7 linked regions of the Homo sapiens genome follow. The protein of the gene in region 1 purifies or fractionates together with the protein of each later gene. This does not show direct contact. Each region holds a gene or a part of one and is shown in the gene's direction. Other genes may lie near its edges.

Evidence for each region.
Region 2: the proteins of PROZ (region 1) and PIP4P1 purify together in Homo sapiens (co-immunoprecipitation; one large-scale study listed by IntAct). This does not show direct contact.
Region 3: the proteins of PROZ (region 1) and FOXF2 purify together in Homo sapiens (affinity purification with mass spectrometry; 2 studies listed by BioGRID and IntAct, with this or other methods). This does not show direct contact.
Region 4: the proteins of PROZ (region 1) and ETV3 purify together in Homo sapiens (affinity purification with mass spectrometry; 2 studies listed by BioGRID and IntAct, with this or other methods). This does not show direct contact.
Region 5: the proteins of PROZ (region 1) and ACOT9 purify together in Homo sapiens (affinity purification with mass spectrometry; one large-scale study listed by BioGRID and IntAct). This does not show direct contact.
Region 6: the proteins of PROZ (region 1) and ZNHIT6 purify together in Homo sapiens (affinity purification with mass spectrometry; one large-scale study listed by BioGRID and IntAct). This does not show direct contact.
Region 7: the proteins of PROZ (region 1) and HIGD1A purify together in Homo sapiens (affinity purification with mass spectrometry; one large-scale study listed by BioGRID and IntAct). This does not show direct contact.

What each region holds. Positions count from the first base shown.
Region 1 is NC_000013.11:113,168,402-113,173,149, forward strand, and holds the end of PROZ (vitamin K-dependent protein Z isoform 2 precursor), read left to right. Parts: intron 1-1,400; exon of another isoform or gene 1,401-1,687; intron 1,688-2,011; coding exon 2,012-2,129; intron 2,130-2,968; exon of another isoform or gene 2,969-3,192; coding exon 3,193-3,704; 3' UTR 3,705-3,985; downstream 3,986-4,748. UniProt on the Homo sapiens protein: Appears to assist hemostasis by binding thrombin and promoting its association with phospholipid vesicles. Inhibits activity of the coagulation protease factor Xa in the presence of SERPINA10, calcium and phospholipids.
Region 2 is NC_000014.9:20,458,222-20,462,749, reverse strand, and holds the start of PIP4P1 (type 1 phosphatidylinositol 4,5-bisphosphate 4-phosphatase), read left to right. Parts: upstream 1-1,315; 5' UTR 1,316-1,424; coding exon 1,425-1,566; coding exon of another isoform or gene 1,567-1,587; intron 1,588-1,904; coding exon 1,905-2,095; intron 2,096-2,451; coding exon 2,452-2,558; intron 2,559-3,016; coding exon 3,017-3,122; intron 3,123-3,309; coding exon 3,310-3,362; intron 3,363-3,453; coding exon 3,454-3,544; intron 3,545-4,047; coding exon 4,048-4,191; 3' UTR 4,192-4,528. UniProt on the Homo sapiens protein: Catalyzes the hydrolysis of phosphatidylinositol-4,5-bisphosphate (PtdIns-4,5-P2) to phosphatidylinositol-4-phosphate (PtdIns-4-P).
Region 3 is NC_000006.12:1,392,393-1,396,429, forward strand, and holds the end of FOXF2 (forkhead box protein F2), read left to right. Parts: intron 1-2,303; coding exon 2,304-2,467; 3' UTR 2,468-3,211; downstream 3,212-4,037. UniProt on the Homo sapiens protein: Probable transcription activator for a number of lung-specific genes. Mediates up-regulation of the E3 ligase IRF2BPL and drives ubiquitination and degradation of CTNNB1.
Region 4 is NC_000001.11:157,120,887-157,124,895, reverse strand, and holds the end of ETV3 (ETS translocation variant 3), read left to right. Parts: coding exon 1-55; 3' UTR 56-3,705; downstream 3,706-4,009. UniProt on the Homo sapiens protein: Transcriptional repressor that contribute to growth arrest during terminal macrophage differentiation by repressing target genes involved in Ras-dependent proliferation. Represses MMP1 promoter activity.
Region 5 is NC_000023.11:23,725,914-23,729,922, reverse strand, and holds part of ACOT9 (acyl-coenzyme A thioesterase 9, mitochondrial isoform a precursor), read left to right. Parts: intron 1-4,009. UniProt on the Homo sapiens protein: Mitochondrial acyl-CoA thioesterase. Catalyzes the hydrolysis of acyl-CoAs into free fatty acids and coenzyme A (CoA), regulating their respective intracellular levels. Regulates both mitochondrial lipid and amino acid metabolism.
Region 6 is NC_000001.11:85,659,815-85,663,823, reverse strand, and holds part of ZNHIT6 (box C/D snoRNA protein 1), read left to right. Parts: intron 1-1,546; coding exon of another isoform or gene 1,547-1,565; exon of another isoform or gene 1,566-1,706; intron 1,707-4,009. UniProt on the Homo sapiens protein: Required for box C/D snoRNAs accumulation involved in snoRNA processing, snoRNA transport to the nucleolus and ribosome biogenesis.
Region 7 is NC_000003.12:42,784,729-42,787,778, reverse strand, and holds part of HIGD1A (HIG1 domain family member 1A, mitochondrial), read left to right. Parts: intron 1-1,616; coding exon 1,617-1,751; intron 1,752-2,458; coding exon 2,459-2,508; 3' UTR 2,509-3,050. UniProt on the Homo sapiens protein: Proposed subunit of cytochrome c oxidase (COX, complex IV), which is the terminal component of the mitochondrial respiratory chain that catalyzes the reduction of oxygen to water. May play a role in the assembly of respiratory supercomplexes.

The sequences.
Region 1 (4,748 bases):
TCTATGAAAGGCATTGCGTCTGGCGCAGAGCCCCAGGCTGGCAGCAGTCCTCTCCTCTCTGCACTTGGGCCTGCCCCACTGCCTTCCTGTCTGCCTTGTGCCACAAGACGGCTCCCATCACCCTGCTGCTGTTCCTCACATGTCCTTACCTGTGGCACTTTTAAGATTTTAAATGCTTTTTAATTTTAACTTTCTAAGATTTCCTCTATCATGGATTTTGAATTTAATTATACTGTGTATTGTTTTCATGTTTCTTGCACATAGGGTTTGTTGAGATTCTTGTATTTGTGGGCTAATATCGCTTGTCAAATTTGAAAAATATTTGGTCATAATTTTCTTTTTTTTGAGACCGGGTCTCGCCCTATTGCCTGGGCTGGAGTGTAGTGGTGTGATCATGGCTCACTGCAGCCTCAACCTCCTGGGTTCAGGTGATCCTCCCACCTCAGCGTCTTGAGTAGCTGGGACCATAGGTGTGCACGACCACACACAGCTAATTTTTAAATTTCATGTAGAGATGGGGTCTTGCTATGTTGCTCAGGCTGGTCTCAAACTCCTGGGCTCAAGCAATCCTTCCACCTCAGCCTCCCAAAGTGCTGGGATTATAGGCGTGAGCCACCATGCCTGGCCCATTATTTTCAGATTTTTTTTCTCTCCTCCTTCTCCCTGCTCTGTTTTGGGACTCTAATTACATGTATCTTAAGCTGTTTGAAATCCCATAGCTCAGAGATGGTCTGTTCATTTTTCAAAAATCTCCGTTCTCTCCGTGTTTTACTTTTGATAGTTTCTGTTGTGATGCCTTCAAGGTCATCAATCTGTTCTTCTGCAATGTCTAATCTGCCATTCATCCTGGCCAGTGGATGTTTAACCTCATATATTGTAGCTGTCATCCAAAAATTTAATTTAGGTTTTTAAAAATACGTATTTTTGTCTCTACTTAACTTTTTGAACATTTGGACTACAGTTACAATCACTGTTTAATTGTCCTTGTCTACTAATATCTGTCAGTGCTGACTCAGTTTTGGGATATTTTTCTTCTCATTATGGGTCACATTTTCCTGTTTGTATGCCGTAATGGATTTCCAGACATGTGAATTTTATCCTGTTAGGTGCTGAATATTTTGTGCTCTATACATACACTTGGATATTGTCCTAGGACACAGTTAGGTTGGAAATACTTTCATCCTTTGGCACATTGCTCTTAAGATTTGTCAGTAGGACCAGGGCAGCGCTCAAGTCTAGAGCTAGTTATTCTGACTACTGAAGTGAAACCCTTCTATGCATCCTGCCCCGTGCCCCACTGAGTCAGGGATGTTTTAACTCAGCTGGTGGAAGCAATTGCTATTCCCAGCTTGTGTGAGTGTCTAGCACAGGTCCCTCTCACACTCTTGGGTGGTTCTTACCCGGCCATAATTAGTCTCCATGTACACGTGATCACCACTGCTCTGCTGAAAACTGCTAGGCATGTGGCCATCCTCCAGCATTCTCTACCAAGCTCTCTCCTCTGCCGGACTCTGTTCTGCAGGACTCTGTTCTGCAAACTCCAGCCACTGTGGCCTCCCTGGGCTCTCAGCTTTCTCTCTTCAATTTAGGGAGTCAGCAGGGCTCCAACTGAGATGCCCCGTCCTGCTCTGCACCATGGAAATTCTGGACAGTAGCTGAGACCGTTGTTTCTTGGGGATTACGATTCCTGAAAACCATCATTCCATAGATTTTGTCAATTTTTTGCTTCAGGTGGGAGGGTAAATCTGATCACTGTTACTTCACCTGGGCCGAAAGGGGAAGTGCCGGCCCCATTTAATCCCTAAGCAAACAAAAGCTTAGACTGTCAACAATTCGTTAACAATCCTGTACCATTTGAGTGCTGGGGCAAGAATCAAATACGGCTGTCTGCCTTTGGCGGGGGGTGGGGGTGGGGGTGGGGGGGTGGTCCATATCCCTATCCAGTAGACTTTACTGCCCCTAATCCTGCAAATTGTCACCAGCTATTTATTGTCTGTTTTGATTTTTAAAGGTAAAGTTAACAAATTCCGAAGGAAAAGACTTCTGTGGTGGTGTTATAATACGGGAAAATTTTGTACTGACAACAGCAAAATGTTCACTGTTACACAGGAATATTACTGTAAAAACATGTAAGTATTTTATCATGAGTTTTTATAAAACCACATTGGAAATACACTATCCTATGTAAGAATGAAATGACAAATTTAAAACTGGACTGTTTCTAATGCAACATAGAACTGAATTTACTGTCAATAAAACTGAGATACTTATCAACTCAGGAAGCATATGTAAAATACCAGCAGAAGCCTGGGCCCAGCGACAGGCAAGTGCTAACTCACACTCGGCAAGGGAGGAAATCACAGCCTACATAAGGATGACTTCATTTCCCACTGAAATTGAGCAGTTGTGGCATAAGAGATGGATAATTGGCTAAAAATCGGAAGAATGGGGCTCGAATCCCCCAGCAGTTGAGACCTCAGGCTGAGGCAGTGGCCTTCTCATCGGCTTATCTGTGCCTATTTCTTTCTTTTTTTTTTTTGAGACAGAGTCTCACTCAATCCCTCAGGCTGGAGTGCAGTGGCATGATCCAGGCTCACTGCAACCTCTGCCTCCTGGGTTCAAGCGATTCTCATGCCTCAGCCTCCCGAGTAGCTGGGACTACAGGCATGCACCACCATATCCCACTAATTTTTTGTATTTTTAGTAGAAATGGGGTTTTGCTATGTTGGAAAAGCTGGTCTTTACTCCTGGCCTTAAGTGATCGACCTGCCTCGGCCTCCCGAAGCGCTGGGATTACAGATGTGAGCCACTGTGCCTGGCCCTTAAATATTTTTCAATCAACAAAATAACGTGAAAACCACTTCTCAACAGCCAATGTTTGACTGGCCTGGAGACGTTCCACATCACTGCTTCCTGCTTTTTAATCATTTCACCACACCCCACTGCACTCCAAAACAGAAGAACTAACCTTGACTGTTTTTAAAGGCTGTGGCACTTGGTTGCAATCGTGCAATCTGTGAGTGGCCTTTCTGTCCGCAGAAAGGCACAGTGTCCACACCACGGGGCGGTGAGCCTGCGGGTCCTCCAGGGCCGGTCTCTCCCTCCTCACGTGGCTCCCTGAGAAGCTCGTTTGAGCATTATGTCCCCTTGAAAATCAGACTGTAAAGAACTGACGATTGTTCATGATTTCAGATTTTAACAGAACGAGCCAAGACCCGCTGATGATCAAGATAACGCACGTCCATGTGCACATGCGGTATGACGCGGACGCGGGGGAGAATGACCTGTCACTGCTGGAGCTGGAGTGGCCCATCCAGTGCCCAGGTGCGGGGCTCCCCGTGTGCACCCCTGAGAAAGACTTCGCTGAGCACCTCCTCATCCCACGCACCAGGGGCCTCCTCAGCGGCTGGGCACGCAATGGCACTGACCTGGGCAACTCGCTGACCACGCGGCCTGTCACACTTGTGGAGGGGGAGGAGTGCGGGCAGGTCCTGAATGTGACTGTCACCACCAGGACCTACTGTGAGAGAAGCAGCGTGGCGGCCATGCACTGGATGGATGGAAGTGTGGTCACCAGAGAACACAGAGGCTCCTGGTTTCTCACGGGGGTCCTGGGCTCGCAGCCAGTAGGAGGGCAGGCTCACATGGTCCTTGTCACCAAGGTCTCCAGGTACTCACTCTGGTTTAAACAGATCATGAACTAACTGAAACTCAGCTAGCCAGAATGAACAACACAACCGGAAGCGGGATTCCAAGCTGGCACTGCCACTGTGGAGGGCGCTGAAACTTCATCACACACTGAGAGGCCGTCACAGCCCCAGACCACCCGCTTGGCCCACGCAGCAGCAGAGCCGCCGTTTGCTGGGTTGTTTACCGAGCACTGTGACCTTTCTTTCCCTGGAACTCTTTATCTCAATAGAGACCTTAAAAGAAAACATGAGATACGTTAAATAATAAAATAAGATAATCTGTCAGTCATAAAGCAGCCTGGTTTCCAGAAATTCTTTCCTTCTCCAAGTCCAGTGTTCCCTGTGCTCAGGGAATAGCCACCCCAGCCTGCACACTGGTGAGTGTGTTCTGGTGCAGAAGCGACAACAATCTCCGGTTACAGCAGAAAGTGACCTCCTCTGTTGGTTTACCAATTGCCACTGTGACTGAGGACCATGGCTCAGTGCAGAAGCAGCCACTAGAAGCAGGTTGGCAATGGAGGAGAATGACCCTGTGGGTATCCCAGAGAGGCAGCATTAGAGGAAAGGGCCAGAGAGCACAAGAGAGGCTGAGGAGGCACGCCGGCGTCTCACGGGGTTGTGCACCCGCCCTTCTCTGGGAGGGTTCCCACGGAAGGTTCCGGGGCCCGAAGTCAGGGCTGAGCACTGAGACCCAGCTCTCTGCTCGTCCCACCAGGTGGCTCTTGGACAACTGTTCCACCTCTTCATGCCTCAGGGTCGCCCAGGGTAGAATCCCAGCACCTCACCAATGGGCTGATGGGCAGCTAGGGCAACGCCCAGCACTGTTGTGGCTGGAGTGTGTGTCCCTTCAAAACTCCAAAATTGGAACTTACCCCAAGATGATGATATGGGGAGGTGGGGCCCTTGGGAGGTGACTAGGCCATGAGGGCTCTGCCAGCCCCTTCCATCTCTTCTCCCATACGAGGACACTGCAGTGAGGTGCTACCCTGGAGACAGAGAGCCCTCAGCAGACACCAAATCTGCCGGCACCCAGATCTTGAACTTCCCAGCCCCCAGATC
Region 2 (4,528 bases), on another chromosome or scaffold:
GGAGAGTCTGCTAGCCAAACTGATAATGGACCTCCTCGGGGTTTATTGTTTTTATCAATTCCTTGTTGCTTCCCATATTTAAAGCAGTCCCAGTTTGGGCTATGACTTGGGAAAAAATCCAGGTGTGGTTCAGGCGCCCATAAAGACCACACGAGACTTCAGGTAGGGGAGGAGGCACTGCCCCTTTGCTGGAAGCAAAGTTGAGACAGGCCTAAAGACTGTCCCATCTGTCAAATAAGGTGACGAAAATAACCTTGTATTTGATTAATCCAATCTACAAACTTGTGCGTATGTTAAAGGTTGGTGGTCATAAAACTGAGTAAAGGCACGGTGGCTTGTCCCTGTAGTCCCAGCTACTGGGAAGGCTTAGGCAGGAGATCAAACTCAGGAGTTTGAGTCCAGCATAGGCAAGACCCCATCTCTATTGAATTTTTTTTTTTTTTTTTTTAGTAAAACGATGAAATCTTCTAGTAGTGGAGACACTAATGAAAAGATAATTTAACAATTTGATCAGCAATGGGGAAAGACGGGGCTCTGTAAGGACAGCTTCCAGGAAAACCCAGTCTTGTGTCCTGTCCTGAAAGTGACTCTAGCGACAAAGGCTGGAGTGATAATCTTAACTTTTTAATCCATTTCCTTCTGGTACCTCATTACTCTGACTTTTTAAAGGTACTTCTTTGAGTAGAACAGCTAACTTTGTCTACTGTTCCCCACCGTCCATTTTCTCCCCGCTCAGAAGATCCCAAGCTTCCGCACTCCTTTATTGCACCCGCCCAGCCTCCTTTAAAATGCATAAGCCACGCCCCCCATGTTCTGGCGCTAAGTTCGGGCCAATGCAGTTGCGCCGCTAGGATCACAGGACGAAAGAAGTAAAGTCACCAGCCAATAGGAAACCAGCTACAACGCAAAGCCGGAGAAAAGTGTTTTAGTGGTGTCTTTGAACCAATGAGGAGCAGAGCAACAGGGACCGTGCAGCTTCCAGAAACACGTGACCAGTTGAGCAGACGCAGCCTAGCCCTACCTCCTGGTCTGGAGGTAGCGCGATGGGCGTCGCTCCCAATAGCTTGCAGAACCTCTAGTCACGTGCAGGTTTTGCAAGCCCAGCAGCATCTGGCAGGTCATGTGACAGTTGACGTTTGTGCGTCGCTCCCCAATGGAAAAGGAGAGCTGCCTTCACAGGACCAGGAATTGGTTTATCTACGCGAATAATAGCATGACCCGGGCGGGGATAGCCTATCACGTGCTGCTAGACGGAACGGGGCGGGGCAGGCCACTGGTTGCGGAGTGAGCTGGGCGCGCGGCGCGCAGGCGCCCTGGGGACCCGGTAGCGGCGGTGGCGGTGGCGGCGGTGGCGGTGGCTGCGGCGACGGCAGAGGCGAAGGGAGCCGGATCGCCGACCTGAGCGGGAGGCGGCGGTGGCGGCCATGGCGGCAGATGGAGAGCGTTCCCCGCTGCTGTCTGAGCCCATCGACGGTGGCGCGGGCGGCAACGGTTTAGTGGGGCCCGGCGGGAGTGGGGCTGGGCCCGGGGGAGGCCTGACCCCCTCCGCACCACCGTACGGAGCCGGTAAACATGCCCCGCCCCAGGGTAAGCCGGGGCGGGTCCGAGGTGCTCCCCGGGGTACTCTGAAAGCCGGGGAGGGGGCGGGACCGAGGGCGGAGGCGGGTCCCAGTCGCCAGGTGCGGGACTGCTGCACCTGTGACTGGGCGAGGCTTCCTTCCCTCCGTAATCGCGACCACAGCCTAGGGACGGAAGGGGGTTCTGAGCAACCTGATAGAAGTGCCAATTATGAGAAGCCCTCCGAGCTTGGTCAGAGGGTTGAAGATCAGAAGGACTTCCCTACCACCGTGGAGCATCAGTGGGGGTGTAAGTGATCCCAGCCCTTCTATTTGCTTCCTCTCCAGCATTTCCCCCGTTTCCCGAGGGGCATCCAGCCGTGTTGCCTGGGGAGGACCCACCCCCCTATTCACCCTTAACTAGCCCGGACAGTGGGAGTGCCCCTATGATCACCTGCCGAGTCTGCCAATCTCTCATCAACGTGGAAGGCAAGATGCATCAGCATGTAGTCAAATGTGGTGTCTGCAATGAAGCCACCGTGAGTTACACATATCTATGAAATGGGCCCTGTTTCCTGGATCCTCTTTCTGATGTCTTGGTTCTAGACCCTGACCTTCCGGCTATTAGCCAAGTGCTTTTGATGATACCCAGGTTTCAGTTCCAGGTGTCTCACACAGCCATTTCCCCAGAAGCCACTCACCAAAGCTAATGTTCACTTTCTCTCACTTTTACACCTAGCCTAGTTCCTATTTGCAAATCTCATGATATAGTCTTTCTTTTATTTCTCCTTCCTGGTTAGCACCTTATTTTTCTGATCTCATAAAGTGTTTTTGGAGGGAAGTGGAGGGGATTGGGATTAGAGGTTTGCTTGCTGATGACCCTATTATTCTCTAGCCAATCAAGAATGCACCCCCAGGGAAAAAATATGTTCGATGCCCCTGTAACTGTCTCCTTATCTGCAAAGTGACATCCCAACGGATTGCATGCCCTCGGCCCTACTGGTAAGAGGCATAAGGTGGGGAAGGGCCTAAGTGGGGAACTGGAAAGTCAAAAAAGGATGAGCGTATACAGAGAATGTAAAGGTGAGAGAGCCTAGTGTTTATTTAGGAGAAAAGGCTTTGAAGCATGTGCCTCAGGAATGTTATAGCTGTCTTTCTCGTTTCTCAATAAAAATATTGAGATGAAATGATGTCGTTTCGGAGAATAGAGAGCCTTGGGGACTGGGTGTGTTATCCTGAGGTCGGAGGGGAATTGGGGACCTGAAGTTTAAACAGTGCTCTTTCTTTCTCAAGGATTCTTGAGGGTATACAGTTGGGGGACAGAGTATCTTAAGTACAGAGAAGTCGAGTGACTTAATAGACAGGGAGTGGGGGATGTGGAACAGGGACTGTGAAGATTTTTAGGATTAAAAATTTTTCAAACACAAGTTTGAAAATACAAGTCTTTTTCTTTTGTATAGCAAAAGAATCATCAACCTGGGGCCTGTGCATCCCGGACCTCTGAGTCCAGAACCCCAACCCATGGGTGTCAGGGTTATCTGTGGACATTGCAAGAATACTTTTCTGGTGAGGAAGGGGTATTGGGAAGGGGAGGGGAAAGGAGACTAAGAGTCATTTCGAGTATATTTCTTAGAGTAATGGTAATGACCCCTGAAAGGTCTGTCCTATGGGAACATGTTCTGCATCCCCACCCCAAGGTTCTCATTGAGGGAGACCCTGCTTGTGCTATTATTTTTGTTTTCTTTCTCCATAGTGGACAGAGTTCACAGACCGCACTTTGGCACGTTGTCCTCACTGCAGGAAAGTGTAAGTGATTAGGGATTGAGCTGGTAATTGATGTATGGAGTAAAAACTACAAGGCCATAGAAAGCATCCATTTCTATTTGCCTCCCCACAGGTCATCTATTGGGCGCAGATACCCACGTAAGAGATGTATCTGCTGCTTCTTGCTTGGCTTGCTTTTGGCAGTCACTGCCACTGGCCTTGCCGTGAGTACCCTTGCCCCAACCTCTTTCATTCTGCAGCCTCATCTCCATAGGCTAAGATTTGGGAAACTGCTACCCTAAAAAAAAGTGGAAGAAACTTGGGGGACTAGTTTGTTTTGTTTTAAGATATGGATGAGCTAAAGTGCAAAGTGGCTGATCAAACAGACTTTATTACTACTACAAGAGTGAAAAACAGCCTTCCTTTCTCTGTAGGATGAGGATAGGACAGTGAAATTCTTAATTTAAGAGTTGCTATTTTTCAAACCTGGCTCAGTTGTCAGATATTAAGAAAAACTGAGATACAGTGTGGGATGGGATGAGTATGTTACGCCTAAGGGAAGGAAGCTGATCAGCTCTGCCTTTAAGAAGGTCCCTGAGGGTGGCTACATGTGGATAAGGAACAAGGACTGAAGCGTGAGTTATTACTGTTCTTAGAACTAATAGGAGGTAGTGGAGACCAACATTAACCCCATCTTTCTTTTCTTCTCCCTCCTTATCTTCATCAGTTTGGCACATGGAAGCATGCACGGCGATATGGAGGCATCTATGCAGCCTGGGCATTTGTCATCCTGTTGGCTGTGCTGTGTTTGGGCCGGGCTCTTTATTGGGCCTGTATGAAGGTCAGCCACCCTGTCCAGAACTTCTCCTGAGCCTGATGACCCACAGACTGTGCCTGGCCCCTCCCTGGTGGGGACAGTGACACTACGAAGGGAGCTGGGGTAGTTAAAGGCTCCCGGGGCTTCTAGAAGGAAGCCAAGCAGCTGCCTTCCTTTTCCCTGGGGAGAGGTAGGAAGGAACCAGGCCCTCACTTAGGTTTGGAGGGGCAGATAAGAGCACTGCTGACCATCTGCTTTCCTCCAAGGGTTGCTGTGTCTAGGGTGAAGTAGGCAAAACGTTGCCCTTAAAACTGGGCCCTGAAGACGGTTCCAGCCTTGTCCTTCCTGTGTGCTCCCTGAGAGCCATTCCTGTCCCTTACACATTCCAGGG
Region 3 (4,037 bases), on another chromosome or scaffold:
CTTCCCCTCTTATTTTTGTATTCCCTTGGACCGGCTGTCAATCACACACACACACACACACACACACACACACACACACACACACCCCTCGGTGCACTGGCCCCTTCCCTTCCCCGCCTGCCTGCTCCTCTCCCAGCCTGCCAGCTGCCCTCCCTGCTCCCCTTCTTCTCCTCTCCCGGCAGATCCACTCAACTTGAACCCGGACTCTGAGGCTTAGCAGCCTTGGAGAAACCGTACTCTAGGAAGAAAAAAAAGCACACAGGAAAGAGACTCCTGACCCTTCCTCAAGGCTGCTCTCGCCCCACCTCATAACACTGGGCGCAGGCACAAGCTCCCAAAACTTCGGAATCTGGATACATTACTGTCTTGGAGGGGGTGAAAACTGCCCAGCAAAGCAAGCCGGCCTCTGTGCCCCTACCCAGCGGCCTCCCGCGGCCGGCCTTCCCTGGGAGCCTCGCAGAACCCCCGACCGAGTCTGGGAACGCCCGGGGGAGACAATAGCTCGGGCCTGACGCCCGACAGGGACCCTCTGCCCTTCCTTCCTCGCTGTCTTGCTCCCGTCCCTATAGGATACCCACCCGGCCCTGTTGCCATCTCCCTGGAGCGCCAGCGGTGGAGGCTTCGGAGGAGCCGGCCGGATGCACCGGGACCCCGCGGGGCCTAGTTGGGAGCGCGCCGCCCACTGAGGCCTGGGGGCCCGGCGAGGCGCGGGGGTGGCCAAGGCAGTCTCCCCGGCACACAGATCAGCACATGTCTACGCGCACACACCCAGCACGACCCTCCCTCCCCCAGCACACCCCAAGGGCCGCGCCCTCCGCTCCTGGGCCTGGTGGCCATGGTCCATGTGCCCCTGCCGGCGCAGGGGCTGCCCTGGAGTTCTCCATTAAGCCCTGCGAGCACTTCAGGAAGGAGCTCGGGCTTCTGTCATCCCGCTCAGCACATCAAAGCGCCGACGGCCGCCTTCGTGGGCAGGTGTGAGCGCTCGCCCTCTCTCCTCCCGAGCCTGCTATTTTGTGGTCCAGGACTTGCCATCAGAACTTGCTTTAACGCGACGAGGGAACTCACCTGTGTGCAGAGCGCCGCGCACACATCGGGGCTCGCGGGACAGGGCAGCTGCGTTAGCGCAGCGCCGGGTGTGTTCGGGTAGGTGTTGCGGGCAAGGAAGTAGGCAGCGGCCCCTGAGCAGCCGCCTCGCTCCGGCATTGCGGGGACACGGCGGGGCTGAGGCCACGAGAGCAGGGCCCGAGCCCGGCGGGCCGTGGTTACGGTTTTCTTGCACTGAAAAACTGAATCCGGCCCGAAGCGACGTGCACTTTATGGTCCCCACACCACTCGGTTAACTAAGAAAAGACCCGGGCGAATGGACCTAACGCAGCCCGGTGCCGAGAGGGCCCGGTCCAGCAGCCTCTGGGGCCCAGTGCGCAGGGCACTGCGGGCCGATTGCGCCCCGGGGCCAGGAGGCGCCGAGAAAGCAAAAGCAAAAGCCGGCGGCGGGTGGAGGTCAAGCGGCCCGGTGCAGGCCGGGGACCGGGGAGCCGCCCCGGGAGAGCAGGGTCCAGGCCTTCTCTGTCCCCCTCCAGCCTGGGGCTACCTCAGGGACTCCTCGCGCTGCCAGATGCTTCGGACCAAAGGGCATTTCTCTGCGCCCTGAAGTCCCGGCTTCTCTAGAGGAAGTCTAAGACGTTCGGGACCCACGAAGATGCCTGCGGAGGGGCAGGAGAAGAGGCGTGCTTTTCTGCCCCATCCCTTCATCTTGCGATTGGGTTGTTTTCTATCGTCCCCTTTGGCACAGGGAGTCCTCTGCGCTCGCTGCTGTGACCGGCCCAGTTAGTTGGGAAACAAGGCTCAGAAAGAAGGCCGCAGTGGTGTTTCTGGGGTAGGGTGCTTGGCCCTCCCTGAAGCCAGGGCTCAGGGCAGCACAGGCCAGGAGCTCTGCCGGGAGAGACCCGGAACCAGAGTCTGGGTCTAGTTGTCCGGTACCTGTGCTCATTCTGAGATTAAAGTGCACGCCCCAGCCTCAGAGAATAAAATTGGAATTCCAGGACATAAGAATCCCCCTCGAGGGGGAACTTGCTCTGTGTTTGTGCGAGCATCAAAACAAAACATAATGATTCCAAAGCAATTCTATGACGTGCAGTTGGTGTGTTTGAGCTACTTCTAAAGCTGGGCTTTCTCTACCAGCTGTCTAGCAATTTACTAAAAGGCACAGCAGCACCTTTTGTACTCTGAGGCAAAATAAGACACCCTGCCATCCACTGGATGACTTTGTTTCTGAAGAGGTTTTTTTTTCTTTCTTCTTTCAGTGGGACTGCCCCGTTACCAGCATCACTCTACTCCAGTGTGTGACAGAAAAGATTTCGTCCTCAACTTCAATGGGATTTCTTCTTTCCATCCCTCAGCTAGCGGGTCGTATTATCACCATCACCACCAGAGCGTCTGTCAGGATATTAAGCCCTGCGTCATGTGAACGGAAAGAGGCCAAGCGATGGCCGCTCTCTCCTCTCCCCTCCTCAGAGGGGGCAGATAGAAACTGGGACGGATTCAAGTCACATGCACGCGGATAGCAGTAAGCCACACACCTGCCACTTAGCCAGAATGCCCAGGATCGCGTTGGTCACTGTTATTTGCCTACTGCTGGAAGAAGGACAACCGCTGGCAAGGTAGCGTTCCCCAATCTGAATACCTGCAGGCTCCCACATGAGGGAGAGGGCAGACTCAGGTGGGAAGATGTGCCATGCGTAAGGCATCAACGTGTATCTGTGGGATCTTCGTTGCCTTCAGTAATCAGGGTGTGAAAAAAGCAGACAAGTTGTGTGTGTGTGTGTGTGTCTAAGAAAACTTGTGTGCTTTTCAAAAAGGCAGTGCTAAGCACAAGATTTCAAGAAAGCCTCTTCTTGTTGCCTAGCTGAGTGGGAGAGTCATTTTCCCCAGACACTACATTTGGATACAGGTGCCAAAGAACATTATTAAGGAATTATTTAGAAACAATGTGTCTAGTTTAAGAAAGTGGTTTTCAGTATTGTGACAATACAACGTTTTTACAAGGTTGTTTTCTACCACCATATTTTAAAGATATTTTTATGACCGTGTATACTCACACTTTGCTTGTATTTTAAAAGGAGGATATATTTGCACTTATGTATACTTTTACAGTTTGCCAAAATATTTTGTTGTAAAATTTTTTTTCAATAAAATGTATATAACAAATAGTTGTTTTAGGGGCTGATTTTCTCTTCGGGCACCCTGAGAGCAATGGATGCCAGTTTCTCCTCCCCGGCAGGCAGCTGTGCAACTCTACCCACACCCCCTCCAGTGGTGTAACTGACATGGTGTGGGGTCTGTGCCTTGAGTAACACAGGCCAGGTTCTGATTGTGAGTCTTCTCAGGAGAAAAACAGTGGAAGAAACGTTTTCTGTTATTTCTTTCTTTACTTCACCCCAGCTTTTTCTGGCAAAACAAAAACCAGAAGGTGAAAGGAACTAGAAAGAAAACCAGGCAAGATACCGACCAGGGTTTGATTTTGAGGAAACCAATTTTGTGCCCCTTCTGTTTTCTTTCCTGTGCCCGGGGAGTGTTCTGCCCTTTGCCCTCTCTCCCTCCCGACTGGCATGGGTTGACAGATGTGGGGCACAGTGGTAAGCCCCCCTCCAGGGTTGGATGCCCAAAGAACAGCACCCTGCTTCTTCCCTTTGCACGTTGCAATTTTGTTATGGGTGGCGGTCACATGCTGTCAGAAATGGGGTTCAGATCTGAAGAATGCAGGGGGATCCCTGAGCTGCAGGGGGCAGGCTCCCAGCAGGGGGTTTAACTTCCTTGGGGAGTTTAATACAGAAGCTGGACTCCCCACACGTTGCTCTGTGGCTGCGGCCTGTCCCACCCTCCAATTCAGAGCCTGGCTGGCCCTGCTCAGCATCGGCACATAGCAAGCCGGTTCAGCCCTTCCTTCCTCCCGGCCTCCTCTCCCCACTCCTCCCTTTTAACCAGGGATTTAACAAGGGAACCCCTCAGCCCCTTTTTCTGTTCCTGCTAGATTTCCC
Region 4 (4,009 bases), on another chromosome or scaffold:
TCTCTGGAATGGGTCAGGACCCCAGGGCTTGGCAACAGCAGCTGCTGATGCTTAGAACTGGAAGTGGATTAGGAGCTGTTTATACTATAATCAAATACATACATGTATTTATGTAGCAAGATTTCAGGGTGGGGGGGAGGGAGTTAAACTGGTTTGATCATTCTAGGGGCATAGACTTGTATTTTTATGTTTTGGGGATGGGATGGGGTTATCTTCTGTTGTAAATTAGGTGGGATATGAACACACTTATTTTCCTGGTGAGTAGGACACAGGGAGGGTATTGAACTCAAAGGAGAAGGAGCCTCTATTTCCTGTTGAGGCTTATACTTTCTGACAAGGAAACTCCCAAAGGGCCAAGATACTTTTTGGTCCCATGATAGTCAGGTTCCAGACTTCTTTCTTTTCTATTGTATTTGTATGTGGAAAGCCATTAATGAATTTATTTTACTCCAAGAGATACACATAAAAGGGAAAAGGGCATGGTTGGGAGGTTGAGCAGTAAGAGACCATTAATACTAAGTATTTTGCCTGAAATGCTTCTTTATAATTATTTCAGGGAAGGAATAAGATAATCTCAGACTTACTGGGGTGGGGCTTGGGGAATGTTTGGATGTTGCTCTTTTTCTTCTTCCTTCTTTTTTTTTTTTTTTTTTTTTTGGTTGGTGTTGTTTGGCATTTTTTTCTTTTCCTTTTTAAAGAAAATGTTTTCAGGAAACATGAACAAACATACTGCCAATTATAGTGGGGCTGGGAAGGCACAGGAGCTGGCGACCTCTCAGCTGCATAGTTGGGACGGCAAACCCTGCTGTGAGCTTCTCAGACTTTTCACCTACTTCACCTATTAAGAAGCCATGAGGAGTTGTAAACTCTTGTTCAGGGAAGAAAAGAGGGCAGGAGGAAGTAACCCAATGCCTTTAAATACAAAACAGATGAAAAACAAAATACTCATTTTTCCTTTTCTATTGTGGGTTTGGGGAGCCAAACCAAGTGTGACTGTGAGCACGTTCACTGAGAGGCATGACAACATTATTGAAGAGGTCTTTCCATTATGTCTGGTTCTCTTATTTTCTTAAGTCAAGCCTTAACTATGAACATACTTTAAGATGATACGGGTCTGTCACCATAAACCTGTAAAAGGGCATCGACAGCTTTTCAGATAATCCAGGAATGTTGAGACATGGCTAAGTTTCTAGCTGATACTTAGTCATTCCCTCTTGATATTGTTGGGATGGGTAGCCAAAAGGCAGGCTTGTGGGAGTTAAGAGCCAATGATACCTGGAAACATGGGAGGTAGCTGGGGGTACAAGTGGATGTTGAGACTGAAGGAAGAGGTGGAAAGAAGACACAGAAGGCACCCAGATGCCAAAAGGCCTGGCATGAATGAGAGTTGGCATCTGTCCTGTTGTGGTGTTCCCATTCTTGCCATACCCATTTGCCCAGATTGTTCTGATTCTCATGTTCAATTGACTATCCCACATGAGACTACAGTTTATAGGCAGTGAGGAATTGTTTCTTCCTGGGAAATGTCCTTCCAGCAACTTCAGAGGAATGGGAAAGTGTTAATCTTACGTGAAGCAAAGGAGCCTGGACTAGGGGCAGAGAGAAAGAAGCAGCAGCCCACCTTCTTTGTGTTTGCACATGTGCCTATGTCGTGTACATTGGTACCTGACTGTGGCTCAGATCTGCGTCGCAGCAGCGAGAGAAGAAATCACTCCATATCCGATGAGAGGAAGGGTGGCACAGAGATGGTGTCTACAATTAGAGACATTTCTGACTCCACCTTAGCCTAAGCAAACTTTATATACTGAGTAACATTTGAAGGTTGTCTTTTAATGGTGGGGGGTGTTTTTTCCTTTTTAAACTACAGTGCTTGCACAAGAGAGGGAGGGACTCAGAAAAGGTTAGGGCAGGTGAGGGAGACAGTAGATGGCCTGGGATGACTTGAGTCCATCATACTATTGCTTGGCAGGTGTCCTCCCCCATGTTTGATTCAAATTCCATGAGTGACCTACCTTTCCCCAGGAATGGGACTGAGAGGGTAGTCTCCAGCAACTCAGTCTGCACAGGGCTCCCCGTTCAGGCTGCCTTTGGTGGTTGTGCTTTTGTAAGTTTCTTTCTCTGCACTTCGACTTACCTCTGAATCAGAAAGCAAGCCCAGCAGGTGAATGAGGGATGTCTGCTTGGCATTGCCCAATCTAACCAGGGAGGCTGGCTGGCCACCCACTGTCCGCTAGAGGGGAGAGCTAGCAGGTGTTGGTATGAACTCAGGAATAGAAACACGAGGCCTTTTTAAATACGAGGGAGAAGAATCCATGATGCATACCTGTAACCCCCTAGAACCCAAGTGCCAGAATTCCTAGATGCTGCTTCTGTTTGAACAAAATGTCACTGCTTTTACACTTGAAAAAAACACACTCGAAAAATGTTCAACTCCATGAAAAATATTTTTTGGCTTTAAGAAATTGTTTGGTGTTTAACTGTTTCCTTTGATTGCCATTCCACCAGTAAATTGTTGGTTGATTTGCACTGCACTCTGGGGTTGGGGTTGGGAGGGGAGGGTCCTTATACAGAGCCGAACCTGGGGTTGCTCAGGAAGTGGGCCAGGGAATGTGGAAGTCGTTGACATTGCCTGGGCCAAAAGAGTGGGAGATAGTTTTTCTCCCCTCAGCCCACTCCTGGTAGCACCTGTCGCCAGCCTGGTACAAAGCCAGGCCTTTTTCTTCTGTGAGCATCTCATCACTGTCCAGCAGCAGGTGGAAAAAGGGGGACAACAACCAGACCTATTTTTTCTCCCCCATTTTTTCCAAATTTTGCTGTGCCAAATGTTTAAAATTTTATAAATATGAATCTATTGAAATTTCCTTAATCAAGAGCTTCTTCGTGTAAAGTTTGCTTTTTTAGCTATAGAAAAAGAAAACAGTAAATATCTCTTAATGGCATCCAGCCTTGCTGAGCTCACCTTTTTTCCTGAAGAATGGGTAGGAGTGAAATATTTAATGTAAACATTTCACCAAGTCCCTTTACCCTAATTTTGAAGCTGCATTAAACCCAACTCACTAACACAGGGAATGATTGCACCCTAGTCCTCTGTGGGCCAAGAAACTTTCAGAAGCATTAAAAAAATAGTTGAAGTATATCACTTCTCACCAAGTGGGTAGAGTCAGTTGGCTGTTTGTCCCTTGTTTTTTATTTATTCCATAATTATGTTTGTGCTTTTTGTTTTGTAAACAGTAATGGAACGTACATTTTTATTTTGTTTAGAAGACAACTTTGATTCAATCTTTCAAGAACTGTTCCATTCTTGGTTTCTTCTTAGGGGGATAAAAAGTTACCAGTTAATTTGTTTTGAGATATTTAAGCATTCTTTGAGTTATAGAATTGTGATGCAGGGATTTGTGAATGAGACATTTACATGTGAAAGGTGACTTCACTAGTTACCTGCTTGAGCAGAGTAAAGTGTGTATATGTACATAAAATGTAAGTAATCTTAACTCCATTGTGCAGTGCCTTTTAGATGTTCCGCTTTCTATAAAGTCTTCAAATTTTTGCATATATATTATATATATATGATGTAATGTTATAGAAATATATGTATAATATACATATTTTTTCCAGGGGTATCTGATAGCTCTGTATTTTGTTATGGAAGTTGAAAGAAAAAAGTATTTTACCTCAGAAATTAAATAAAAAAATACTTTTAAGTAATGTTTGCTGAGAGTTGGTTTTGTTGTTCATCATACACTGTGCTGGGGTGGTCATGCCAGAGAATTTGCCAAGTCCGTCCTCGCTCCCCCACCCTCATGCATTGTTATTCCTATTGTACAGGTACCAACATAGTAAGGAAATAGGTCTCTTAACAGTTCTGGAGATTTTCCATTTTCTTGAGTGAATGGCTGCTACCAGTTAAAACTAACTGAAGCCAGAGACGCAAGTTAGGTGGAAATTTCTATCTCAAGATTATTGTGAAGATTCTTTAAGAGTACATGTCAAAGCCAGACACAAAAGACCA
Region 5 (4,009 bases), on another chromosome or scaffold:
GCGGTGGCTCACGCCTATAATCCCAGCACTTTGGGAGGCTGAGGCAGGCAGATCACAAGGTCAGGAGATCGAGACCATCCTGGCTAACATGGTGAAACCCCATCTCTACTAAAAATACAAAAAATTAGCCAGGCGTGGTGGCATACGCCTGTAGTCCCAGCTATTCAGGAGGCTGAGGCAGGAGAATCACTTGAACCTGGGAGGTGGAGGTTGCATTGAGCCGAGATCGCGCCACTGCACTCCAGCCTGGGCGACAGAGTGAGACTCCGTCTCAAAAATAAAAAAGAAAAAAATTTTTTGTCCCTGAATTATGTGAGAATAAGTGGCTGACATGATGCCACATCACCCCCAAATATTTGAATATGTCTTTCCTACAAACAAGGACATTCTTCTACATAACTACAAAACAACCATAAAAAATCAGGAAATTAACACTGATGTGTCATACTGTCTAATCCTCAGGTCCCATTCAACTTTTGCCAGTGGTCCTTCATAGCAGAAGGATCCAGTTCTGAATCATATGTTGATTTAATTGTCATGTCAGGACTAGTTCCTTAATCTTTCTTTGACTTTCGTGACTTTGACATGGTTCTTTTGTGTATTGTCCCTCAATTTGGGTCTGTGTGGTGCTTCCTCATGATTAGCTTTGGGTTATGCATCTCTGGCAGGAATGTCACAGAAGGGATGCTCTGTTCTTATTGTATCCTATCAAGTGGTGCATGGTTTTGATTTGTCTCATTACTGATGATATCAGCTTTGCTTACTGGATGACGATGATGTCTGCCACTGTTCTTCACTGTAAAGTTACTCTTTTCCCCTTTGTAATTAATAAGTACCTTATGTGGGGGGGGGTGGCAGGTAACTTTGAGACCTTCATCAGACTTTCAATTCATTATTTTTAAATCAGTATGGACTCAGGAATTCCTATGTTACTGAATGGACTATAATATGTTACTATCATCTATTTGATGTTCACATGATCCCAGGAGTGTCCCAGTCCCTTCAGGCTAGCTTCTGTGTGGTTTTCTTTGATGTGTCCCCATTATTCTTTGAGCACTTTCTCACTTTCTGGCACAATAAAATATTCTAGGCTCATCTTATGCTTTTCCCTGCCCCAGTCCTAGAATCACCCACATCTCCAAGGAGCCCTTTTTTGAAATGGAGAATGATATTTTGAAGTGGAGGATGATATTTTGAAATGGAGATATGTGCGTTGGGAGTGGTCATTATTCCTGGGTATCACTGCTCCCATACCCTCTTAGTGGAGGAGCTGGGAAATATATGTGCATATACGTACATATATGTTATTTCTAAATCTTTGTACAGATGTATGTATGAAAACCATGGGATCGCACTGATAGCTCCAATTCCAGTTCAGCCACCACGGGGTTCATTCTCATTTCCTTCCTTTCCATATTTGTAATTCCCTTCTCCAACTGGCTCCATTCTCCTTAATATATTGACTTATTTAATCAGTTCCGCTGTATGTGACCAATTTCCTATGGCTGCCACCCCTCATGCATCATGGATGCTCCCCTCACCTTACCTGGGCTCTGGTACCCCACACCAGGTCCCCCTCTGCAGGCTCACCCTCTTCATTGTGCTCAAGCTGTGACATGCTCTGCCATCACTCTTGCAGCCTCTCTGCAAGGATGTCCTCCTCACCGTGCTTGGATGCCAGCACCCTACTCTAGGTTACCTTACTTGCTCCCACCTAATGATATTTGGGCTGAATGGTTGGGAAAGGGTCTGAAAAAGGGTTCTAATATATTGTTTAAAAAACTATTTTTTTATAGAGATGGGGTCTCCCTGTGTTGCCCAGGTTTTTCGTGAACTCCTGGGCTCAAAGGATCTTCCTGCCTCAGCCTCCTAAAGTTCTGATTACAGGTGTGAGCCGCCGTGCCTGGCCTTTTTTTTTTTTTTTGAGACAGAGTCTCACTCTTGTTGCCCGGCCTGGAGTAGAGTGGTCCGATCTTGGCTCATTGCATCTTCTGCCTCTGGGTTCAGGCGATTCTCCTGCCTCAGCCTCCTGAACAGCTGGGATTACAGGCACCCGCCATCACATCTGGCTAATTTTTGTATTTTTAGTAGAGACGGGGTTTCACCATGTTGGCCAGTCTGGTCTCAAACTCCTGACCTCAGGTGATCTGCCTGCCTCGGCCTCCCAAAGTGCTGGGATTACAGGTGTGAGCCACCATGCCAGGCCCTAACTTTTAAAATATAGATACAAGCTTGTTGTTAAGCTTACGCCTAGCAACTACTTTTCTCTAGATTAAATAAACCCAGTTAAAAATTCTTGGCTGGGCACAGTGGCTCACACCTGTAATCCTTGCACTTTGGGAGATCGAGGCAGGAGGATCGCTTGAGGCCAAGACTTTGAGACCAGCCTGGGAAACATAGTGAGTCCCCATCTCTACAAAACCCAAAAAATTAGCTGGGCATGGTGGCATGCACTAGTAGTTCCAGCTACTCAGAAGACTGAGGTGGGAGGATTGCTTCAGCCCAGGAAGTCGAGGCTGCAGTGAGCTGTGGTGACACCACTGCACTACAGCCTGATTGACTTTGGTTTGCTTAGGTGTCCTTATATATACAAACTCCCCTGCCACTACCCTCTTTCTTGCTCATTAACTTCTGTTGATGGCCAGTCCCTTTAACCTGTTCACTTGATTCTATTCCTTCTATTTCTTCAAGGAACTGCCTTATCACTTGGCTTTCTCCCTCATTTCCTGAGCCTTTTCTCAACTTCACTTTTCCCTCAAGTTATAAACATATTCAAGGTTCTTCCATCTTAAAATGAAAAATAGGCCGGGCAGGGTGGCTTACGCCTGTAATCCCAGTAGTTTGGGAGGCCGAGGCGGGTGGATCACTTGAGGCCAGGAGTTCGAGACCAGCCTGGGCAATATGGTGAAACCCCGTCTCTACTAAAACTACAAAAAGTAGCCGGGCGTGGTGGTGCGTGCCTGTAATCCCAGCTACTCGGGAGGCTGAGGCACGAGAATCGCTTGAGCCTGGGAGGCAGAGGTTGCAGTGAGCTGAGATAGACTCCAGCCTGGACAACAGAGCGAGACTCTGTCTCAAAAACACAAAAATTAGCCGGGTGTAGTGGCATGTGCCTGTAGTCCCAACTACTCAGGAGGTTGAGGCAGGAGAATGGCTTGAACCCGGGAGGTGGAGGCTGCAGTGAGCTGAGATCGCACCACTGCATTCCAGCCTGGGTGACAGAGTGAGGCTCTGAGTCAAAAAAAAAAAAAAAGATAAGTAAAAAATCCTCTTTCCTTATAACACCTCACACTTTCTTCCTTACTTCATAGCTCACTTTCTGAAAAGAACCTAGAAAATCACCTGCTCTCATTGCCTCTTTATGCTAACTTCCTGTTAATTAAACATTTCCCGGTCGGCTGTGTTCCGGCTTCTGCTCCTCCACGCCATTGAATCTGCTCTTGCCAAGCTCGCCATTGGCCCCTTTACTGCACAGTTGAATGGATACTTTTCAGGGCTGACCTGACCCCTTTGTGGCTTCTTATATCGTCCAGCCCATCCTTGGGCTTTGGTGACATTTCCTTCTGCTTCTCTGGCTGCTCTTTTGTAGTCCCCTTTGTAGGTTCCTCTTTTTCTGTTGATCCCTTAAATGTAGGTTATCCCCAGGGTTTTGTCTTCTGCCCTTTCAAAAACTGATTATTTTTTGAATTTATTTTATTTTATTTTGTTTATTTATTTTTTTTGAGCTGTAGTTTCGCTCTTGTTGCCCAGGCTGGAGTGCAATGGCGCTATCTCAGCTCACTGCATCCTCCATCTCCCGGGTTCAAGGGATTCTCCTGCCTCAGCCTCCCATGTAGCTGGGATAACAGGCACACACCACCACGCCCGGCTAATTTTTTGTATCTTTAGTAGAGACGGGGTTTCACCATGTTGGCCGGGCTGGTCTCGAACTTCTGACCTCAGGTGATCCACTCGCCTCGGCCTCCCAAAGTGCTGGGATTACAGACGTGAGCCACTGCGCCCGGCCTTT
Region 6 (4,009 bases), on another chromosome or scaffold:
TTTCATTTCCAGCTAAACTAAGTTTCTTAAGCAAAGGAGAAATAAGATTCTTTTCAGATAAGCGAATGTTGAGGGAGTTTTTTACCACCAGACCTGCCTTACAAGAGATCTTGAAAAGAGTACTAACTATAGAAAGGAAAAACCATTACTAGCCAGTGTCACTTTACATTTCTATCATGATACTTGTGCCAATGAATGCAATAGCTGTTTGTCTGCCTCCCCCCATAAAGTGCAAGGTTTATTTCTATGAACTTCCATTACCTAGCAGACTACCTGTGCATAGTAGACACTAAGTAAATATTTGAGCAATCAATTGAAGAATAAATGCCAGGCTAATGCTTATAACATTTTCACATGCATTAATTCTAATAAAGTATGTACTATGTCTTCTCTACTTTACCTGATTAGGAATCGTAGGCTCTGAAAAATTGACTTACCCAAAGAAACTAAGTTTGTACAGTTTATAAGGCTAAGATTTGGACTCAGACCTGTTTGTCAAGAGTTCAGTTCATGCTTTTTCTACTAACTAGTCTCTGTCTCTGTCATAAATCATAAATATAATTCCTGATAAGTATGTCATTTCCTTGCTAGGAGTGCCAAATTACTTTTGGAGTATAAAATCTTATTACTGATGCTAGCTTAGCAAGTTACACTTTGGAAACATTTTCACCTGTTATAGTCCTTACAAACTAACCCATGAGTAGGTATCTTTCCTACCATTATATTGATGGGCAAAACTGAGTCTCCTTGTGGAGTTATAGCTCATAAGGACCAGTGATAAGACTGGAACTCAAGCCTTGTGGATTTAAAAGTAATTGAATTTACCAGCGAAAATCAGAAAAGATTTCAAAGAAATAATATCTAGAACAAGTCAGAGCCTTGTAAGCCCCTCTTTAAAACAGGTTTTAAAATATATAGTTGGCCATTTTATTTAACCACATCCATAGTTTAAATATCATGGTTAGAATAGGATAATTTACCAAATGCAGTTCTGAACTGGTGAGCTTTCTGAATTAAGACATATGTCTGTACTACACAATTCATGATCTACTCTCCATGTCAAGCAGGTATCGTCCTCATTTATGTGGATATATAAAAATCCCAAAACAAAGTGCATCAAACCACTAACTTAACTACTGTGATTTTTAAAATATGAAAACTAAGAGAGATTGGGTGAGAAAAAGATTAACTATGGCAAAATCCTTTTCTATATGACTTGAACATTAGGAGTTGCAAAAATTGTTACACAGAAGTATTATTTGGAGAAATTTTAAATAATACCTTTTAAAGTTTAAATAAAAGAAGAATTAAAACTTTTTTGGAATAATTTAGTTGAACTTTTAATCTAGAAACCTAGATTGAGAAATAAATACAACTGTGAAAAAATATAGTTAAGTATCAAAAATTGTAGAAATTTAGAGCTGAAGGGATCTTAGTGATCACCTAATTCAATGATCTTATTTTAGTGGAAAAATACTGTGGCCTAGGGCCTGCTACTAGATTGCTAAATTTGGAGAAATTCAAACTTAGTTTTGGTATTTTTTAGCAGGTGGAAGGGGCGATGATCCATGGAGTGTCAGTGATCAGATGGGACATAAAGTGGTTTGTGATTTCGTTTCTTTAAAAACTTGTCTTTTGTGGTTATGAGGAGGTTTTTTTTTTTTTTTTAAAGCACACTAATTTGCTAATAAAGTACAGAGAAAGAAGTTCAAGAGCTTGGCCTGTTTCTTTGAAAGTTAGTGACAGAGTCAAGATTAAAAGCACACCCTTGATTATCATGACAACTTTTATTTATATATGTCACTGTAACACCTGTTTGGCCCACTGAGCCGTTCTGCCCTCATAATGCGCCCATGAGGCTGCCCAGAGCAGGGTCAGCCAGTGAACCTGTGAGGGTGAGCAAGTGAAATAACAAGAGGAAATGTCTAAGAAGGGTCCCAGAGGGCAAGAGAAAAGACAAATGTTAGTATCTTAATTCCTCCAAACCTAAGTAGTTTGTCTTATGGTAGCAGAGACATTATATTAATGGAAATACCAGAGTTTGTGAAAATTTCAAAAAGATAAAGCTGTCCCTTAGGATTCAGTAGCTTAATGGCTTGCAAAGGAGCTAAACCTAAGTGTTTTAGGCAGTGCAAAGCTGGGCTCTTAAAACTTGCTTCAAGATAGTGGAAACAGAAACATTCAAAGTACCTTTATCTTCTTGGAAGTAAATGTGACAATAAAATAATGATTTGAAGGTCATACAGAAAGTTGTAAGGCTACATTTAAAATGCAAAATGCACATAAAGGCAGTATGTTCACTGCTAATGAAATCCAGTGACTTTGTCCTGAACTAGAGTTTCTATAGGAAAGTGTTGTTATTTTTGGTAAATAAAAATATAAAACAAACACATGTGCTTAGGGCTTAAATAAATGAGTGAGCAGTTTCTGTGTTTTATCATTTAGCCCTCACAGTAACTCTCTGAAGTGATACTGTCATTATCCCCATTTTCAAGCATGGAAACTGAGGATTAAATAACTTAAGTAACTTGTCCAGGATCACAGACCAGTGAATGATGGAGCCGGAACTTTAACTCAGCGTTAAACTCCAAACCCAAACAACCAGTAAAAGTTATTGCTTCATTTAACTAAATTCCAAGTCCATAAAATATTAACCCCATATGTGTCTGATAGGCTTTCTTTATGAACAGTTTACAAAATTTACTTTTAAATTACTGATAAATATTAATGGTAGATTAAGAGTAACCACTTGTAGTAGAAAAATCTAAGAAATTCAGAATTTCAGCTAAAAGATTATTTAGTGAAATCTGAACGCTTCATTTAACAGGTTGGAAAGCTGTGGCCCAGAAGCTTACTGACACTCAATAGCGTATTGCTGATTAGAAGTTTGCAACATTTTAGGCTAAACACTAAATAAAATCCACTGATTCTAATCAAAACCACACAACATACCAGATTTTCATTGCATAAAATATTTTTAAAATAATTTATCAGTTGACAAGCCTCTTATAAATCTTTGCATCCTTAGTGCTTTTTAAGTGCCTGCTTAGCATGTAAAACAGGAACCAAGTTTTTTTAAGTATAATCATTACAGTTTCAGGATCCAAGTAAGTGTAATCATTACAGTTTCAGGATCCAAATAAGTGTAATCATTACAGTTTCAGGATCCAAATAAGTGTAATCATTACAGTTTTAGGATCCAAAGCATGTTTAACTTGTTGCATAGTAATTTTTATGTACCTCTGAACATTCCTCTGCTAGGAACATATTTTATATCAGCAATAATTTTAGGCTCTGATTCTCATGTGGCCTTTGAAGAACTCTTTTTGTTGCTTCTTGGTTTCAGCTTTGGAAATCTAGAGAAACCCAATTAAGATTTAATATTACAAAAAGAAATCAGATACCTAAAACATTAAATATGCACTGAAAATTATTTACCAAAAACTGAAACAAGTAAAAAACATTCCCTTATTTGAAAAATGCCTTTCATTAGAAGCCTTATGATTTAGCTAAAATGCACAGAAGATAAGTTATTGCCAAGTGCTTGTAGGATGCCACTTGAAAAGTTCCTGTTTGAGAGTCCAGGTCTTATTTCCTCCCAAGAAAAATTTAGTTATCACCATTTTATATTTTACTTTGTAAGTTAATCTTTTACTTGGGTATCTGATATAATCTCATTTTTCTTTTTTATATAATTGCTACTAACTTTGAAAAAAACACTGCTTATTTCAAAGAGAAATAATGTTTAAAAGATGTGAAGCATTTAATCCTTGAATGCTGGAAACACTTTTAAAGTATTGTAAGTACATCTGTATTACATTACACACAGGGAAAAGAATGTATGAATTCTATGATCTGTGGGCACTAAGGTGGCTGGTTTAGAAAAACAGTATTTTGCATTTCAAGTTTCTTTTCAACATAAAGAATATTCTGCAATTTTAAAAAGAATAATTCCAGGCTGGGGTGTGTGGTCAGGGAAGCATAAGTAAAGTTTTGGTTTTACAGTTGT
Region 7 (3,050 bases), on another chromosome or scaffold:
TTTGGGGCTTCTTATTCTGTTGTTTTCTGAAAGAGACAGATTTTCCCATTTTGTTGTCTTCTAATAGAGCTAATCTTGTGTTCCTAACAATTTTTGCTCCATTTATTTATTTTGCTGCTATATTAGATTATTTTAAAGTTTTATGACTTTAAAAATTTATATATATATATATATATATATATATTTTTGAGATGGAGTCTCGCTCTGTCGCCCAGGCTGGAGTGCAGTGGTGTGATCTCGGCTCACTGCAACCTCCGCCTCCCAGGTTCAAGCATTCTCCTGCCTCAGCCTCCCAAGTAGCTGGGATTACAGGCGCATGCCACCATGCCCGGCTAATTTTTTGTATTTTTAGTAGAGATGACCAGGCTGTTGGCCAGGCTGGTCTCAAACCCCTGATCTCAGGTGATCCACCTGCCTCAACCTCCCAAAGTGCTGGGATGATGGGTGTGAGCTACTGCTCCCAGCCCTAATTTTTTTTTCCTCCTTATGATTTGGAAGTTCTGCGGCTATTCTTACACTGCTTGCTGGTGGTTATCTTTACATTGTCAAACTAGGATGTGTTTTTTTCATCTATTTCCTGTATTAAAATGAATATAAATTTATTCCCTAAGACCTTTAGCACACGTTTTGTTGTGATAATCATAGCCTAATTTCAGATTCTTAATTTTGCTATATTATACCAGTCATTTTCAAGGAACCAGTACAGATTTTTCTGTCTTTATTGCTCACCATTATATCTTAACCATTATGTCTTTATTTCTTGAACTGTCCATTTTGACTCACTGTTTTTATTTGACTGGATATTTTCCTCTAGGTTTTTGTATCAGTACCTGGGTGGCAGCTTGGGAAAGACAGCCCTCCTGTAGTCCCAGTTATTAGGGAGGCTGAGCGAAGAGGATCACCTGAGCCTGGGAGAACAAGGCTGCAGTGAGCTATGATTGTGCGGCTGCACTCCAGCCTGGGCAACAGAGCAAGACCCCATCTCTTAAAAAATAAAATAATAAATCTTAAAAAGAAAACATGGAAGGTCATGTCCTGAATGCTTTTGCCCTCAAAATGAATGAGAGTTTGGCTCTGTATAGAACTCTAGGATCATAATCCTTTTAACTGAAACTAATATTGCTCTATTCTTTTCCTTTATTTACTTCTTCCCAGTACAATATCCCAAAGTTTGAAATATTCAGGCAATGTTTCTCAGTGGTAGTAGTGTGTAGGATTGTCTCTGGTATATTAACTGATTACCTTGAGGGAGGGAAATAGGACAGAGAGGAAATGGAATAAATTCATTCTCTAAGTCAAGACCTTTGGCACACTTTCGTTCTGATAATCATAATCTAGGTTCCTGTTAATTCCCTAGCAGTTTTTTAAAGGAGTTTATCTACTGGCCCCACAAACCCATGTTTTTAAAGATAATCCTGACTTTCTGGATCTGTTGTTGTTTGCTTAAAGATTTTTGGTTTTGATAGGGGAAAACATGAAAAACTCAATTTGTATGTTAGCTAATTAATGATCTGATAAAGAATCCTCATAAAAATAATAGAATGTACATTGACTGATGGTAAAGTCATCTTGGTCCCTTCTCATGCATCTGACATACTTGTTACTTTGTTTTACAGGAATAGCGGGTTTTGCAGCAATTGTTGCATATGGATTATATAAACTGAAGAGCAGGGGAAATACTAAAATGTCCATTCATCTGATCCACATGCGTGTGGCAGCCCAAGGCTTTGTTGTAGGAGCAATGACTGTTGGTAGGTTCCTATAGGAAATTTCAAATTTTCGTTTCTCATTAAGGTATTTCTTTACAAACAAAATAGGTAAATATTTTTAGCTGACCTTTTAGCAGTTGGAGAATATCACTTATACTCATTTTCATGTAAAAAATGAATTAATGAAGATAATTCAAGTAGTGACATAGTTTTTCTATGATATATCCTACTAAGATTTTAAAGAAAAAAAAAATCCTGTCAATCACTGAGTTTATAATTTCATTGAAGAGCCTAGACATGTAATTGGGGTTGATAGTAACATCTGTTATCTGGGAGAGACATACAATTGCTATTTTATTGTGTTTTTAAAGGAGAGATTCTTAAAGTTTAGGTATTACATGCTTCTTCTATTGGCTTTATAATTCATTGACTTTATCTGGTATTATGTAGCAAGAGTGATTCCTTTCAAAGTTACCAGATAAATATTGATTGTTCTTTCAAAGAAATATTGTAACATGTGAAGTAGCCATACCAGCCCTTTGCTACTTGGGAAACTACTGTATGTAACAAGAGTTTTAGAGATTTAAGATGTTTAAGAAGGCAAGAGTATAAGCTTCCTAGGGTCTTATTCCCCTTGTAAATATTCCATGCTAGCAGTGGTGCTACTTTCAGCTATTTTATGAACTGGTTTTTATTTTTGAATATTTAAGAAAATACTGAAATGCTTAACTAGCATTCTTTTTCTTTAGGTATGGGCTATTCCATGTATCGGGAATTCTGGGCAAAACCTAAGCCTTAGAAGAAGAGATGCTGTCTTGGTCTTGTTGGAGGAGCTTGCTTTAGTTAGATGTCTTATTATTAAAGTTACCTATTATTGTTGGAAATAAACTAATTTGTATGGGTTTAGATGGTAACATGGCATTTTGAATATTGGCTTCCTTTCTTGCAGGCTTGATTTGCTTGGTGACCGAATTACTAGTGACTAGTTTACTAACTAGGTCATTCAAGGAAGTCAAGTTAACTTAAACATGTCACCTAAATGCACTTGATGGTGTTGAAATGTCCACCTTCTTAAATTTTTAAGATGAACTTAGTTCTAAAGAAGATAACAGGCCAATCCTGAAGGTACTCCCTGTTTGCTGCAGAATGTCAGATATTTTGGATGTTGCATAAGAGTCCTATTTGCCCCAGTTAATTCAACTTTTGTCTGCCTGTTTTGTGGACTGGCTGGCTCTGTTAGAACTCTGTCCAAAAAGTGCATGGAATATAACTTGTAAAGCTTCCCACAATTGACAATATATATGCATGTGTTTAAACCAAATCCAGAAAGCTTAAACAATA